2 separate regions of the Homo sapiens genome follow, and region 2 is linked to region 1. A link means that fine-mapping ties the variant in region 1 to the expression of a gene that starts in the linked region. Tissue or cell type: lung. Region 1 holds a variant in brackets; the other region holds the start of a gene. All regions are shown on one strand. Distances are between the middles of the regions.

Region 1 (8,175 bases):
CACCCACTGCCGGCGGGGTGGGGCAGGGCAGGGCGGCTTTTATTCCCTTATTTGACCCCACCCACATCCTGCTGATTGGTCCATTTTACAGAACACTGATTGGTTCATTTTACAGAGTGCTGATTGCTCCATTTTTACAGAGTGCTGATTGGTGCATTTACAAACCTTTAGCTACACACAGAGCTGCTCATTGGTGTGTTTACAATCCTTTAGCTAGACAGAAAAGTTCTACAAGTCCCCACCCTACCCAGAGGCCCAGCGGGCTTCACCTCTCAACCTCATAGGGCCTCCTCCTCTGTGTGCCTCTCTCCTCGTCTGTTTCTGATTTGCCAGTGGGCTTAGAGCCCGCTCACATAAACTGGGGCGACTTCAGCTGGAGATCTTTACCCCACATGCAAAGATTCTTTTCCAAATAAGGTCATATTCTCGGGTTCCAGGAATCAGGACATAGATGTAGCTCTTTGGAGGCCACCGTTTAGTTTACTACAAACCTTGAAACCAAAACAGGATCAAGGTCCAAACTTAGAAGGACTTGGGCTCCAGAGAGAGGCCCAGGAAGCTAAGCCCCACTGCCCGACACAGCCCTGTGTGCACAGTGGGAGCCCCAGGGTGTCTGTTCAACTGCAACACACAGCTTTCTACCAGGTCCTTAACACATGCTGGGTCCTAACATGTGCCCTGAGGTGAGCCGGGGATACTCGACTCCAGGGCACTGGCCAGAAGCCTTGGACCTGCACCCACCACCCAGGCCTCTGAAAGGAGAGCAAGCTGAAGTCTTGACTTTGAAACAGCTGCAGGGGTCGCCCCTCACCCAAGCTTGGGGTGGGGGGGGGGCTCTGGGCGGCAGCAGGTGCACTTTGGGAGCCTCCGATGGTCCCCACAGCTGGGCTCCCTCCTCATCCCCATGGGCGTAGCCCACCAGGTGGCTGCTGAGTCCTCATGGTCCGTAGGCAAGAGGAAGGGGGAAAGTGTGAGCCCTTGGCCTCCACGGCAGCCGGCTGGGATCCTGGCGGGGGACCCTCGCTGGTAACAGCATCTCCCCAGGACGTGCGGCCCCAGTGCCTGCACCCAAGCCCAGCCCTGGTGGGGAGCAGCCCCTGGAAGGCAGGAACCACTCCAGGCAAATGCAGCTGGTGCTCAGCTACATCCTCACGAGGGCCCTGGGCCCCAAACCAAGAGGCGGCTCAGCCTGACAGATGCGGTTCTGGGAGCTGGGGCGGTTGACACTGCCTGGGCCTTGCCGGCTTGGCCTTCTCTGAGGGGTGGTGTCCACACAGCAGCAATGGTGCCACATGCCGGAACCTGGAACCGAGGTTGCCTCGAGAACTGTTTGGGCAGTGGCCCTAGCGGGTGTGGGTGCCGGGAAACAGGAGGCAGAGTGGCCCCCATGTTCCTCTGTAGGCGTCCGCACAGCCTGCCTTCCCCGAGTGCACACGGCGAGCTTGCTTGACCCTGGGGTGGCCACGGCCCACTTTTGTGACCCACGTCCCTCCTCCCGGCAGGCCCCGTGTCTTTGGGGAAGGTGAGTAATTCTGAATCTGGTTCCCGAGCCCCACTTCCCAGTCTAGGGCCACTACGTCCCCACGGTTCTGGGACACTTGCTGAGACAAAGGCAGATTTTGTGAGTCAAAAGGGACTTTCCACATCTCCAAACGGCGTTTCCGGATGCATGGGCCTCAGGGCTCTGATCCCAAGAAGTGCCAAGAAGACCTCTGTGGTCACAGATGCGGACCAGGCCGGGACATGCTGGAAGGTGTCAGGACACGCCCGGCCTGCACCTCTGTCTCCCAGAGCATCCCAGGTCTCAGGGCATCAAACGCTCCGAGGTCGGTGACCAGGCACCACCGCCTTGGCCTCAACCAGCACCCCAGAGGCGCCGTCCTGCCCTCAGAAGGCCCCCCAGAAACGCTGTTTCCCATCGCTGGCTGGCTGTCTCGTACCAGCCGCTGCAGCCCCGGCCCACCTGCATGCAGGGAGCAGGGCCCCATGGGAACCCAGGCAGATCCCCCTCCTGAGAAAGGTGGCCCTGCCCCAGCCAGCACATCCCAGGCGATGAGGCATGTGATCCCCATGGCCCCTCGGGTGAATCCTGACCGCCAATCTGCACACACAGCCACACCTGCGTCTCCATCTCCCTCGGTTCTGTTCCCCCCCACCGGGTCTGGAAGACACTGGTAAGCAGGGGAGGAGGAAACAGGTGCAGCTCCAGCGAGGCGGTGCTCCCTGCTGGTGAGTGGGTGCCCCCTGCTGGTGAGGGGGGGTGCTCCCTGCTGGCTTCCCCTCCCCACAGCTGTCCCTGGAGGGAGGCGTCATTCTGTAAACAGGGAGATGGGGTTCAGGACGGTGCCAGCATGCCCAGCAATCCCGGAGTTCCCCGTGCTCAGGAACTCGCACCGCTGGCTCCACGCTCTCTACTCCAGTGGGACAAGAAAGCTCTGCTCACCAGGCAACGAGAGGCGCAAGGGCGGAGCCCAGGGCCCCGGGGAGGGCTCAGGTGGCTGGCGGAGGGGGTGCAGGGAAGGGAGATTCACCCAGGAGGGCCATTGACAAGCACTGGCTGGGGAGGGATGTGGTCACTGCACCGGCATGACAGCTCGGAGTAGCTTCTAGGTGACCACGCCATGGGAGAATGTTCTGAGGGGAACCCCTTGGGAGGCTCAGCATGAGGCAGAGCCGTTGGGGGCTGCAGCCAAGGTGGGCAAGCTGGGCCTGGGCCAGTTCAGAGCAGCCAGGCTGAGGGGGAGGGTGGACACGGGACGTTTATACCAATACGCTCGGGCCGCTGTGGAAATGAGTGCAGCCAGGCTGTGCACACCACAGACACGTCTCGAAGCCTCGGGCCTGAAGTCCCAGGTCAGTGTGTGGCTGGGCTGCTCCCCTGAGCTGTAGGCGGGCACCGGTTCCGGCCTCTTCTTGGCTTGCAGGCCCCAGCTTCTCCCTGTGTCTCTGTATCGTCCCTGCTCTGTGAGTGTCTATTTCTGTGTCCAAATTCCCCCTTTTAATAAGGACACCCGTTATATTGAATTAGG[A/G]TGCACCCCTGTGAGCTGTCACTTGATGACCTCTGCAAACAGCTCCCTCCCAATACCATCACATTCTCAAGTGCTAGGCAGTAGGACCCCCAGTCCTCTCCCAGTCCTAATGGAGAGATGTCACTGAGCCTGTAACTTGGCTGTCCCAGCCGTCCCTGCTGCCACGGGCACCACAGCCGCCATGGGCACCAGAGCCGCCACGGGCACCACAGCTGTCCCTGCCTCCCTCTCTGTGCTCTCCCCTGGCTTGTTTTCTGTATCTCCTGGGATGGAGGCTCCCTGGGGACTGTCTTCCCCACTGTGTCCTCAGCACCCAGACCTCACTGGGACAGCAGCCACTAAGCTTGTGTGGTCACTGAAGTTTATATTTAAGTTAAAATTTTTTTTAAAAAATGAAGAATCCAGGTCCTCAGCCACAGCAGCTACAGCTCAAGTGCCGATAGCCACATGTGGCCGGTGGCTGCTGCATAGGACAGCGTGGACAAGGAATAACTCCGTTGGTGCAGAGAGGCCACTGGACACTCAGGCAGAGACAAGAGGGTTCGCCGGGACAGATCAACAGATGAACAAATTCAGAACAAAATGCTTAGTGAGGGAGAAGTGAACTTTCATTTTGCCCAAGTCACCATTATCATGGGTGCTGCTGGCAGGATCAGACCTGGTCATGTGGAGTCTGAAGTGCTCCCAGCCACCAACTGTGGCTGTTGCTTAGAGATACCCCTCTTCCCTGCAGCCCTGCAGGACTTCCCGGGGCTTCCTGGCCTCCACCTTTGCTTCTGGTGCTAGAGGCGGGGCAGGTGGCGTCAGGGTGGCCACTCCCCTCCCCAGAGCTGCACTGGGCCGCAGTCAGTTCACCCGGCCACCCCTGGCAGCATCTCTGGGCCCCAGACAGGGCCCCTCCATACAGAGCCCAGACGCTCCACAGGGCAGGGGCAGCCCAGCCCTATAAGCCCTGGTGCCCCCATAATCAGGAGGAAGAAAACCTCCCCCGTCTCCTGTCCCCTCTCTCCCCTCTCCCCTCCCCCCTCGCCCCTCCCGTCTCCCCTCTCCCCTCTCTCCTCTCCCCTCTCCCCTCTTCCCTCTCCCCTCTCCCCTCCACCCTCTCCTGTCTCCCCTCTCCCTTCTCCCCTTTCCCCTCTCCCCTCCTCACTCTCTCATCTTCGCTGTCCCCTCCCCTCTCTGCCCTCCACTCCCCCCTCCCCTCCCCCTCCCCTTTCCCCTCCCCACTCCCCTCTCTCCCCTCTCCCCTCTCTTCCCTGTTCTCTGCTTCTCTGTGTGTGTCTCTCTCTCTGTCTCTCTTTCTGTCTCTGTCCATCTGTCTCTGTCTGTTTTTCTGTCTCTGTGTCTCTGTCTCTCGCTGTCTCTGTCTGGCTGTCTCTGTCTCCCTGTCTCTCTGTCTCTGTCTCTGTGTCTCTCTCTGTCCCCCTCCCCTCTTCCTGAGCCACTGCCCAGAACTCCAGGCAGGAGGTGCTCACGGCCCTCCCCACATCTTCCCCCTAGAATACCCGTGACCATCAGCTGCCCCCCCCATACACACCCCTCCCCTCCAATCCCAAACTCACTCAGAGCCCCTGTTCTTTGGGCAACGTGCTCAGAACTCAGGGGAGGTAAGGGGGAGTAGGTCAGCAGAAGAGGAAATGGACTTTCCTGGCCCATTCTCCATCCTGGGAGGGCACTGGGCCCTGGGCCCCAGGCCCCGGGCCCCGGTATTCATGGTAACGGGGGCTGAGAGGCGGCCAAAGAAGGCTTGTTCCCGTGCCGGGCACCACAGAGCTTACGGCTCCATCTGTGACACGGGCCTTCCTTCCCTGAGGGCCCCAACACAGCCTCCTGGGCAACATGCCCCTCCATCCGCAGGGTCAGAAGCCGCAGCTCAAGGATCACCTGCGGAAGGTGGCATTTCCCAAGACCGGAGCTTCCCGACATCCCGCCACCTCCCGCAGCGCTGGTGCCAGTCCTGTCGGATAAGGGGCAAGTGTAAGACCGGCCTCATCAGCTCCAGCAATTGTAACAAAGCGCCATGGGCGGGGGCTTCAACACTAGAAATTGTTCCCTCGCAGCCTGGGGGCTGGAAGTCCCAGACCAAGGGGCTGCTGGGCGGTTTCTCCCAAGGCCTATTCATGGCCCGCAGACGGTGGCTTCTCCTGTGTCCTCCCACGGCCGCTCCTCTGCACACACGCATCCCTGGTGTCGCTTTCTCTTCTTACAAGGACACGTCCTATTGGGTCAGGGCCTTCCTCACAACCTCATTTAACCTTAAGTCCCTCCCTCAAGGTCCTAGCTCCAGATACAGTCCCGTTGGGGCTGGGCCTCAGCTGCGAATCTGGGGGCACGACTCAGTCGGCAGCTGTCTGTGTCCTGCATGCGCCTCCACTGACCTTCCCAGGGTTCTCCCTGTGTCCTGGTGCTGCTTCTTCACCCAGAGCGCTGCCACCCACTGCTGAGCTTCAGACATGTGACCTGCCCAGTCCCCTCTGCAAGCCCTGCACCTTCCTCAGTACCAACCAGCAAACCCGTGGCTGCACCGGGGCCAGCAGACACTCTCGGGCAGAGTGCTGGGCACCCTGGCCTCCTGGGCACCCTGGCGCTTGGCACCCTGGCCTCCTGGGCACCCTGGCGCTGGGAAACCTGGCCTCCTGGGCACCCTGGCGCTGGGAAACCTGGCCTCCTGGGCACCCTGGCGCTGGGAAACCTGGCCTCTTGGGCACCCTGCCCTCCTACCCCTGGCTGGCTCGGGCGGCTGTCACCAGTGTGTTCTAAGACTGCAGCCCAGAACCAAGAAATAGGGAGGGGGCGAACAGCCCTGCAGGGAGGGGCACACCCGCCAACCTCAGAGAGGGGACCTGGACGCACCCACCACCCTCAGGGAGAGGACGTGGACGCACCCACCAACCTCAGGGAGGGGACCTGGACGCACCCGCCAACCTCAGGGAGGGGAAGTTGGCCGGCGCAGCGCCGGGTGGCGGGAGAGGATGGTGTCTGGGGCTTACGCCATGCCCAAGCTCCCACAAGGCAGGGGCCCACGTCCCGGGCTCCACGCCAGGGCCTTGCTCTGCCAGGGCAGCTCAGGGCAGCTCCGACAAGGAGTGGCCCCTTTGAACGAGATCCTGGAGAGTCAGGGTTTTCACTCCAGCTTTAAACCAGTTGCTCCCAGGCCGCCGCCACTGCCCCCACCCACCTGTTCTTGGTCCCAGCATCATCATGACAATTTGGGGGCAGGAATTCAACTGTGGAACGGGAGGAGCCCTCAGCTCCGGGTCACGCTGGGTGGAGGGCACGGTGAGGTCACGCTGGGTCATGGTGAGCTGGTGAGGCAGGCAGCCTGGTGGGCACCCGCCTTGAAAATGACCCCTCAAACCAGCGGACCGCACCACACTTTACAATTGAGTACAGCTATTTATCCATTAACACCTGTACCACTTCCAGACCAACAGATCACCAGGCTGCAGTGGGGACATGTGAGAAAATTACAGGCAAGGAAGCAAAGACTAGAACCAGGTGTGTCTCTGAGTTCCAGCCCTGCTGAAATGCCCGTCTGAATAAACAGGGGCCACTGCCATCCCGGCTGCGCATGCACAGGCCTCCGAGCGGCAGAAAGCAGGGATGACACCAATGTGGCTTTAAACCAGTGTTCAATTCCCATGGCTGATTCGGAACGTCCTGAGGCAAAACGTGAAGTTTACTGCATCCGAGGAAGGAAGTGCAGCACCCACAGCAGCAGCCAGCACCACTGGACCAACCGGGCCGGGGCTGGGGAAGGAGCATGTGCTGTCGGCACGGCCAGGCCGGGCCTGGAGGGCTGGAGAGAGCCTGCGTGGGACAGCAGCTGGAGGCCGCAGGGGGCCCAGGGATCACCCCTTCTTCAAAGGGAACCTGGCCGAGAACTCGGCCCTCACACTTGGGTGTGGGGTCTCTGGAGACAGGACAGTGAGTGGCCACAAGGGCCAGGCAGGGGCCGCTGCCAGTGGGCCTGGAAGACCAGCGAGGGCTCATGTCCATCACACGGTCTGTGCAGTAAATGATGGCCGGTTCCGCAGACCCCCTCCCTGTGGGGACACAGCTGCTGGGGTGGTCACCCCTCCCCCTAATTCCCAGCTGAGGTGCCCCTGCAGAAGCCCCGAGTGCCCAGCGGGGTAATTGCGGCCAGGTGCTTGCTCTTGGAGCACTGAGGAGCCATCGGAGGCTGCAGGCTGCCTAGCGGCCAGGCTTGCTGCCCCTTCCTGGAATCTGCCCACAGGAAGTCAGAGGCTGCCAGCCCCTTCACTGACCTTTCCAGGACCAGCCAGGAAGGGCTCACAAAGGATGTTATTTGAAACAGGAAGGTCCCTGGACAAAAATATCTCTTCCAAGAGGCCTGAAAGAGCACCTTGCAGAGAGTAATTTAGATTAAACAGGACCCCCTCCCTGGAGAGCCTGCCTAGGTGTGAATTGATTTAATCAAACTGGCCTCCTCTCAGAAAACTAGAGGCCAGGATCAAGCGCCTCTGTCCTCTGCAGAAGGAAGGGGCTGGGGGTGCGGGAGGGTTTAGTTTATCTCTAGGCCCCTACTGTCTGCTTGCATTTTCTTTTTGGTATTTTTTGTATTGTGATAAAATACACATAACATTTTACCATTTTTACCATTTTTGGGTGAGCAGTTCAGTGGCATTAAATGCAGTCACAATGCTGTAAAACCATCACCGCCATCCTTCTCCAGAACTTCCTTTGCAAAACTGCAGCTCTGCACCCATTAAACTGACTCCCATTCCCCTCCCCCAGCCCCTGGCAGTCCCCGTTCTGCCTCCGTCTCCCAGAATTTGACAACTCCAGGCTCTGCCTGCAACTGTTATTCTGCAGGATTGACCTTTCTGTGTCTGGCTGCCCCATCCCTCCTCATTCCCAAAGGCTCTCCCTGGAACCTGCTCCCAGCAGGAGGGGCCATTCCCTGGTCACCCACCTTCTTGAGGCTCCTCTGGGAGAGTCTCCAGGTCTGTGATGAGACCTCAGGGACCTGCCAGCAGGTGGGCTTTTGGAGTGGAGTTGTGGGAGCCCAGATGCTGGTGACCCCTGGAGGTGACCACCTGGGCCAGTGACCACGGACCTCCAGGCCTGGGTCCCTCTGACCTGGCCGTGGAATGAAGCCTGGGGTGCCTGCATGTGGGTGGGA
Region 2 (8,175 bases), 31 kb before region 1:
CCCTGGGTCAGGTCCAGGGAGCTGTGTAGGACGTGGCCCCACGTCCAAAGGGCAGAGGCCCTGACAGAGGTGGCCTCACTCCACGGCCCACTCACTGCCGGGCATGAGGGGAGGACAGCCCCCAACTCACCCTCAGGGTCCCTCAGGTGCCTCTGCTTGACTCCAGCCACCACCTGGCAAGGTCTCCGACATTCACCGATCCCCAGCAAACCTGTGTGACTTCGGCCCCGACCAGCCGCCCTGCACCCAGGCCTGAGCACCTGGCCCTCCCCTTGGCACCACCTTCCCGACAGCCATCCAGACCACGGGAGAGGCACTGAGAAAGCCACGCACTCTAAGAAGGGGATCTGGTGTCCAACGCTAGACAGAAAACCACCGTGGAATCCGTTTGGCCTCGCCCACTCAGAGAAGCCTGGGGAGCTTTGCAGAAGAGGAAACCATGAACCTGAGTCCACGAGGCAAAGGTCTCCTCATATGATCAGAGGCCCAGGAGCAGGTTCAGACCTGAACACGAGGCCACACCAGGAGAGGGAGCCCCTCACCACTCACTGATGGGCCTAGACCAGGGGGAGGGAACGGATACCCAACACCCAACACCGCGTGACCCTCTGCTGTGGAGGAAGCCCCAGCCCCTCTCTACCTGCCACAGCATACAAACACACACATACACACACACACGTGAGCATGCCCACAGCACACAGCTGTGCAAGAGCACAGTACACATGTATGCACACGTGTGTACATATATGTGCACATATACACAGTGCAAGCACATGGCTCACACGTGGATACACCTGCACGCTCACAAGGCACATAGGTGCCCGCACACATGGACCCGGCCAGCTGACCTAAAGCACCATGCTTTACCGCATGCCTGCTAAGGAGAGCCTCTTGCCGGGAGACAGCCTGGGAGTATGTCAGGCGCAGGAGGAAGCACAGGCCCCGGCCTGGATGCCCAGCAGCCACGGCGTTCCTGTGTATCTTGTTTCCTTTGGTTTTAAAAAGGGAACTCGATACACAAAATGCATGTCTTGTAGCCTCCCTGCCTGCTCACCACATACCCATGACCTTCCGTTCCCGCAACGCAGTGCCCAGCTGCTGCAGGGGCTCCCGGGCACAGCCGCGGGGTCAACAGCCTGCCTGTCCCTCCTGCTCCGACTGCCTCCCATGTCCGTGTCGGGAACGCCCTCCTGAAATCTGGGCACAACGAGAGCTCTCTGTCCCTACTCGGCAGGACAGAACCTGGACGCTCTGTGTGTGGTCCCCCTATCTAATGCGTGATCCCCCAAGTCCCTGCATCCCCAAAGGGGACCCCAGATCAGCACGACCGGCGTGCACCGTCTCGCCATTCCCAAGGGCAGTGCAGAGCATGGCACCCAGCACCCGACAGGCGAGGACGGCCCAGGACAAAGCGGCAGCTCTAGCTGTCCTCAGATTTTGGGAGGGGGCTCCCAACACGGACACGGTAGGTAGTTGGAGCAGGAGGGACGGGCAGGCCACTGACCACGCAACCGGGCCTCTGTCAGCGGCCAGGGGCAGAGGGAGGCAGGACCGCCCCTGGACAACCGACACGAGCTCAGCCACAGTGGAAAATCTCAGAAACGGAACCCAAAGAGGGAAGTGGCGCCCAAGCCAGGAAGAAGCTCCCGGCAAACCTGGGAGAGCCCCAGCTGAGGGTGGGAGACCTGGGGGTACAAGGCAGGACCCACCCTCTCCCAGCCCAGGGAGCCCCAGACGAGTGGAAGTCCCTCCTAGACAGTGGGTGGCCAGGGCCTGTGGGACCTTGACAGAGGCTCTGCACGCTGCACCTTCCAGACAGGCCGGGGCACTGGCCAGCCCTCCTTTCCCACCCCTCCCAGGGTCTCCGAGGCCTCTGGACGCACCCCTACAACCTGGGAAGGAGTGAGTCTACCCTGATGTGGTCACGGAGGAAGGGTGGGCTCCCCCAAGTCAGTTACAAAACCCACTCTACCCTGAAGTCGGACGAGACGCAGCCGGCCCCCAGCAGTGTCCTCCCACCTCCTACTCTCAAAAAACCACCCCACTGAGAAACTGAGGGTTAACACGTCCTTCTCATTTCAAGACGAGGTATTTCACATAAGAATAAAAGCTCCGTCCCAAGAAGTGCTGAGGGCACAGTGCCCATCCCCGGGACAGGACGCCTCCCGCAGAGGCTCCACCAGAAGCAGCAGGGAAGCTGCAGGGGTCGGGGACAGAAGGCCCCTGGAGCCAGGCTGGGCAGACGCGGCCTTGCTGGGCTCTGGGTCGAGCCAGGCAGCCCGGGCAGCAGCATCTACCCCTCTTTCCCCAGAACCCCCCAACCCAGGCTGGGGACACCAAGGCCCCTGCTCCTCAAGTTGGGGTGGCTCAGGACGCCCTCTCCACGCCCACCTGGCAGTGCCTAGGATCAGCCCACCAGGCCCCCCAAACTTGCTTCGCCGTCACCCAGGCGCCAGCCCAGAAGCTCCAGTACCTCCACAGACCGTTCAGGGGAACGGCAATGGAGTCAGGAAGAGCTTGGGTGCTGGTAACTCTGTGGCCGGACAGTTTTGGACCTGGCCTGTGACCTTGTGGTGTGGACCCCACACAGAAGGCCTTTGGGAGGGGCTCCGGCTTCTGCAGGACCCCCGCCCCCAACCACCACCAAAAAGCAAAGCCTGTGCCTCCTTCCCCAGGCTCCGTGCCCATCACGGGACTCCTCGCCGCACCTCTGTGGGCTGAAGATCAGGATGTGATCAAGTGGATTCCGAAGGGCAGCTGCGTGCCCGTTACAGCCTGGCAGTGGCTGGGCACCGGGCCCTTTCTGTGGAAGTAGGAAGCGGGTCCAGCACAAAAGCGCCAGGTGCAAGTTCTCTGCCAGTTCGGAGAAATCTCCCAAGTTCAGCTCACACCACAGGGCCACCCTCAAAAGTGTCCAGAAGCCCACACCTGGCCCATGCCCTCCCGTTCTCAATTTCATGAAGGCCAGGGAGCCTCCTGACACGCCCGTAGCAGGACCTGAGTGCGCGGGCAGCGACATGGGCAGCGCTCAGCCAGGGCCACTTCCTGCTGGGCAGACACAGGCCCAGGGCACTGCTCAACAGCCTTGAGAGTAGAAGAGACAAGAAAACGAACAAGCACAAAATTCTCTCTGGCTTAAAAGCAAATGACACTTACAGTCTAAAGACAAAAGTGAACCTGATCAGCCTTGAGAAGGGGCCGGCCAGACAAGAAGAGGCTCCTTCTGAGTGCGTTCCGGGGGCGTTGCTACAAAGCTCACACAGAAAGACCACGCCAGGGCCCACACTCCTTGGTGCTTCCTGCCTCCACGGTGGTGACTGGAGAGAAGGGGCTTGGACTCACGGACCCTGCTTAGTTAGCACTTCACCTGGTGTTGAGCCTGGCGCCCCGCCTGACCACTTCCAAGATCTGGGCTGGCCTCTGTGCAGAGGAAGCTGAGACCACTCTTCGCCCGCCACGGGGACCCTGATGACGCACCCCAGGCCACCAGGCCACTGCCTTCACGGTGGGTCCCCACCCGTGTCTCCGGGTTCCTAAACTGCCTGGAGGGGATGTCTGGCCTTTCCTGCCCGGGATGGTGGGTTAGGAAGGATCTGGGGTCTGGCACCGGACTTGTCCCTGGACAGACCTCACCTTCCTTCCACTGCCAGGGAGCAGGGAGGCTGCCACCCACTGCATGAGACCCGGGCACATGCGGGCACTGCCAGCACGCGGGGTGGGGGCTGGACTGAGTCCGGACACCTTCTCAGAGACTCCGGATGGAAGGGCCTAAGAGCCTCCGGTTTCTAGAGGGGGCTGAGATCCGGGGAGTAACTGGGATTTGGAGCCAGGATGGAGGGAACAGGGCTGGGGGATTCTCTCCCCAGCCCCGTCCCCACCCCCTAGAGAAAGTGAAAGTGCTAGAAACCTCCAGATTCCCGGAACGGGGGACGGGAACACGGAGGACGCGGCCTGAGCAAGGCCCCGGTGGCTGCCCCCTCCCCAGCCAGGGCGCAGTCCTTCCTGTTCCGCCTCTGGGGGGTGGGCGGCTCCTCCAGGGTCAGGCGGGGGCAGGACGGGCCGGCCCGGGCTAGTGTTACCGGACGGCCGCGGCGCAGGGGAAGGGAGAGCGCGGGGGACGCAGGACGCCCCGGCTCCCGAACCGCCCGGGTCTCCACCGCCACCCCTGTCCCACTAGGGACCACCCAGGGGCCCGGGCTCCCTCCGGAGGCGCGCTCCAGCCCCTCCCCGTTTCCATGGCTACCAGCAGCGGCGTCCACACCTCTGCCCCCGGTCCCACCCGAGCTGACCGTACCGGGAGCCCTGGCAGGGCCCCTCGCCCCCTAGCGCTGCCACTAACGTGGGGTGGGGGCCCTCGTGGGGGACCGAGAACAGGCGGTGGGGGCGCGGGAAGGGGCGCCTCCTGTACCCCCGGCCCCGCCGCCCGCCTCCGCTCCCGGATGCCGGGCCCAGACCCGCGCTCGGGGCGCTCGGCCTTTGTCCGGCCAGGTGCGGCCGCGCTCACCCGGGCTGGGGCGCTCGGGCTCGGGGCCCTCGGGGGTGCCCGGAGCCTCCGTCCGCTCGGCAGTCTCGTCCCCGCCGCCGTCGGCGTGAGCCTCCACGGGCACCACGGTGAAGTTGGTGGGCATGGCCGCCTGCAGCCGACAGTCCCCGTCCCGGCCCGGCCCGCGCTGCGCCGCTCCCGCCGACGCCACGGGACTTGGAGGCAGGGGCGGGGTCCGACCGAGCCGCCCCGCCCCGCCCGGGCCACGTGACTTCACCTGCTTGCCCCGCGGCCCCACGAAAAGTTGGCCCGCGGCGACTTCCTGCAGGGACCCCAACCCAGGCTGCGTCTGTCTGACCGCCGCGACCCGGGACGCGGGGCTTTCGCTGCCTGCGCTCCCGACCATCGCAGAGCCCGCGAATCCCCGCTCAGTCTCCTGCACCCCCTCCTGCTCCAGCCCCCTGCCCCTCCTGCTGGAACTCCCCGCCCTCCCCGCCCTCCCCGGCCCCCTCCCCGCCTCCCCTCTTGTCCCCTTCCCCGACCCCCCACTCCTGCTCCAGCCCCCTGCCCCTCCTGCACGCCCTTCTGCTGGAACCCCTCACCCCTCCTGCACCCCCCCACCCTTCCTGCACCCCCTCCTGCTGGGCCCCCCTGCCCCTATGAACCCCCTCCTGCTGGAACCCCTGCCCTTTCTGCACCCCCTCCTGCTGGGCCCCTCCTCCTTCTGCGCCCCCTCCCGCACCCCCTCCTGTTTGCCCCCCATTTCCTGCTCCAGCCCCCTACCCCTCCTTCTTCCCCCTCCTGTTCCCCCCTGCCATCCTCCAGCACCCACCTCCCACACAGTCCGCCCACCCACTCCAGGCTGTCAACACCCGCTCAGACCCTGGGCTCCTAGCCTGGCTCCTGGCTAGCCCAACCTGGCTGCAAAGGCAACTCCAGTGGAAGGAGCCTTGGATAGCCTGGGGGTGGGGTACTCCGGAGCTTGGTCCAGCTCCAGTTTAGGGACCTAACCCAGTAGAGGGAGTCCCCCCCCCCACCCATGACAAATACCACCCACGAAGACCCCAGTCTCCTCCACACCTGCCCCAGGAGTGCCCCGCGGCCCCTGCCCTAGAACCCTCCCTTCCCTCCTTGGGAAATGTTCCAGAAGCTCACAGGGTGATGCAGGGAAGGTGGAGTTCCAGAACCCACCAGGCAGACACCAGGATACCACCGGCCAGCACCTGGCACATTTCTCAACAAATGACTCATGAAAAACGGAACAATCAGATGTCCGTCAATGGGGAATTGGGCTAAAATGCTATGGCACACAGGTGCAATGAGTCAGCCTTTATTCCTAATCACCCACAACTGCTGTACGACAACAAAGCAGAAACACAGGTGGTGTGGGCAAACACGGCCACAGCCTCTTGTCACGTGGAAAATGGGTATGGCCTGGCCATGTTTTAGCCGCTTGCCTGTCTAATCCTAAAAGGCAGCTGGAGGGGAGTGATGGCCTCCGGGCTGTGGGATCACCGGGCTCTGTGGGTTCAAGGAACGCAAGCCCAACCTCTCCAGCCATTTCCAGTAAAGCCAGTCATGCCCTGGGGTGGCCTAGGGTTCTACCCCTTTGCCCCATGGACTCTTCTGGGCAGAAGCTGTAGGCCTGGGACCCTCCTGGAACGTCGCCCATCCAGCACCAGCCCTTGCAGAGGTGGGGGTTCCTCTGGCCTGGGTGTCTGGAGCTGTGCCTGCTCCACACTCTCACCCCACCTCCCACCAAAGGGAGCTCAGGGCTGTGGATGGTGCTAGGTCAGCTGCCTCCCTGGGTCAGTGGGTTGGAAGGTAGGAAACCATCACCTCCCCAGAAGATAAAATAGTTCCCAGGCATCCTTATGAGGAGGGCTGGCTTTGCTAAAAAGATCCAGGGGGTGGGAACAGAAGTGCCCAATGGGGTCAATTATAGGGTTCACACTTAGGGTGCTGGGTAAACCCTCTCCTCAGTCACCCCAGCAGGGGCTTCTGTACATTCAACCCTGGTTGCCACCCAGCGCTATTCCCGAGGGTTGGACAGAGCTCAGGGTGGGCACGAGGCCTTCCCAAGTGATGCCAGCAGGAGCAACAGATGTGCAGGGCTCCCGTCGCACATCCAAGCTCTGCTTCACACCCCAGGACCCCAGGGCCGGCTGCCCGCCATGTGCTGGCTGTGGACCTTCAGAGGAGCTGGTTTGGAGGGTCTGTGGCCAGGGCCAGCTCCCGGACTCAGGACTCATCAGCTTCATTTTACAGAGGAGGAAACTGAGGCCCAGGAGTTTAGGGTCCTGTGGCAGCTCCGAGGGTGGTCTTCTCTGTGATTACAAAATCTTGACTAGGACCAGGGGCCATGGCTGAAGCACCTGGGTGGGTGCCCAGCCCTGCCAGGCAGAAGGCAGGTGGCTTCTCTTGTTTAAATCTTAGATCTTACTTGTGGGAGACCTCGGGTGGGGGGTGAGGTCTGCTGCCTTTTGCATTCTAATCAGGTGAGTCACGACAGGGATCAGCACCCTGTAAGCACCTGCGGGTCAAGACAGAGACCCTTGCCGGAGCCCAGAAGCCGCTGCAGGCCCCTCCCATCCCATCAGTAGCCCATCCCTAGGGGTCTGGTGGCCCCTCCCTTCGCTCTGTGGGTTTCCGTGTCCACGTATATCCTCCCACACGGCAGCCTGGGGTTAAATGTGCGTTGTGTGACTTTCAGTGCTCTCTTCCTACCCACCTCCATCCCTCTGTCCTTTTCTGTACCCGGCACCTGTTGTAGGAAGTGGCCCTCGGACACGTGGAGGTACCCGAGGCCTGGGTTGGAGCTGCATCTTTCGGTGCAGGCCTCTGCGTCTCCTGGAAGTGGGCACCTGGAGCCAGGGGACTGCTGGGATCCGGGTCCAGTCCCCTGGCAAGGCCGGGGGCTCGCAGAGGGAGCCACGCACTGTCTGGTGGTAGCTCCTCCGTCCGCAGTCGTTGGTGCTTGATGTCTGAATCGACAGATTCATGGAGCAAAATGGTGATTTTCCAGTGCGTGGTGGCTTCGTCATGAATTCACTGGAGGGAGAGGCTCATCTTGTCCGTCTGGCCATCTGGATAATGGTGCCCACAGGAAAGGCAGGGCAAGGGTGCCTCTCCCTCATTTGTCAGTTTCCACAACGGTGAATTGGTTCCCGACAATCTCCCAAGTATATTTGTACATCGCTGATGAAACACATTGGTGGGTCTCAGTCGATCACCATTAGTGCCCTTTCCAAGCATCGGTGTCCAGCTTTGCCCAGGGGGCCTCTTCAAATGCAATCTCGCATCCTTATGATGTGAGCCTGGTCATCTGCGATGGCCTCTTGGCCGTGTGCAGGGCACAGCCAGGGGAACCCTGGGATTTAGTGCGAAAGTGTAGCCGATGGTGGTTACATTCTGTGTGTAGATTCTCGAAACAGTCCCTGCTGCCTGCCACCCTGGGGTGGAGTTTCTAATGGATTAGGACGGACACCCAATGCCAGCTTCCAAGCCAGGAGGCCGCTCGTGCCCACGGCTTGGAATCAGGGCTGTGGCCTGGGAGGGCTCTCACCAGACGCAGGCTGCCTCCAGGTATCTGTGTGCCTCTGCCCACGGAGCTTCTCCCCAGGTCCGCGGGTCCCCCCAGTCCACTTCTGCTTTCCTGTTAGGGTGGGGGGCTCATCTCCTGGTGCGCCATC

The links. PIP is the estimated chance that this variant, and not a neighbour inherited with it, causes the effect.
Region 2: SLC12A7 starts here. The variant in region 1 is fine-mapped to the expression of SLC12A7 in lung (TOPMed, PIP 0.93).

What each region holds. Positions count from the first base shown.
Region 1 is chr5:1,138,244-1,146,418 of GRCh38, forward strand. It overlaps a transcript of SLC12A7 not described here. Among named protein-coding and RNA genes, the nearest start is that of SLC12A7, 30 kb to the left of the region's middle. RefSeq lists an enhancer at 2,251-3,094. The variant A/G (reference allele first, on the strand shown) is at 3,030.
Region 2 is chr5:1,107,364-1,115,538 of GRCh38, forward strand. SLC12A7 (solute carrier family 12 member 7) reads right to left here and starts at 4,700. Exons shown (of 24, transcript NM_006598.3): 1 at 4,505-4,700. The coding sequence starts at 4,628.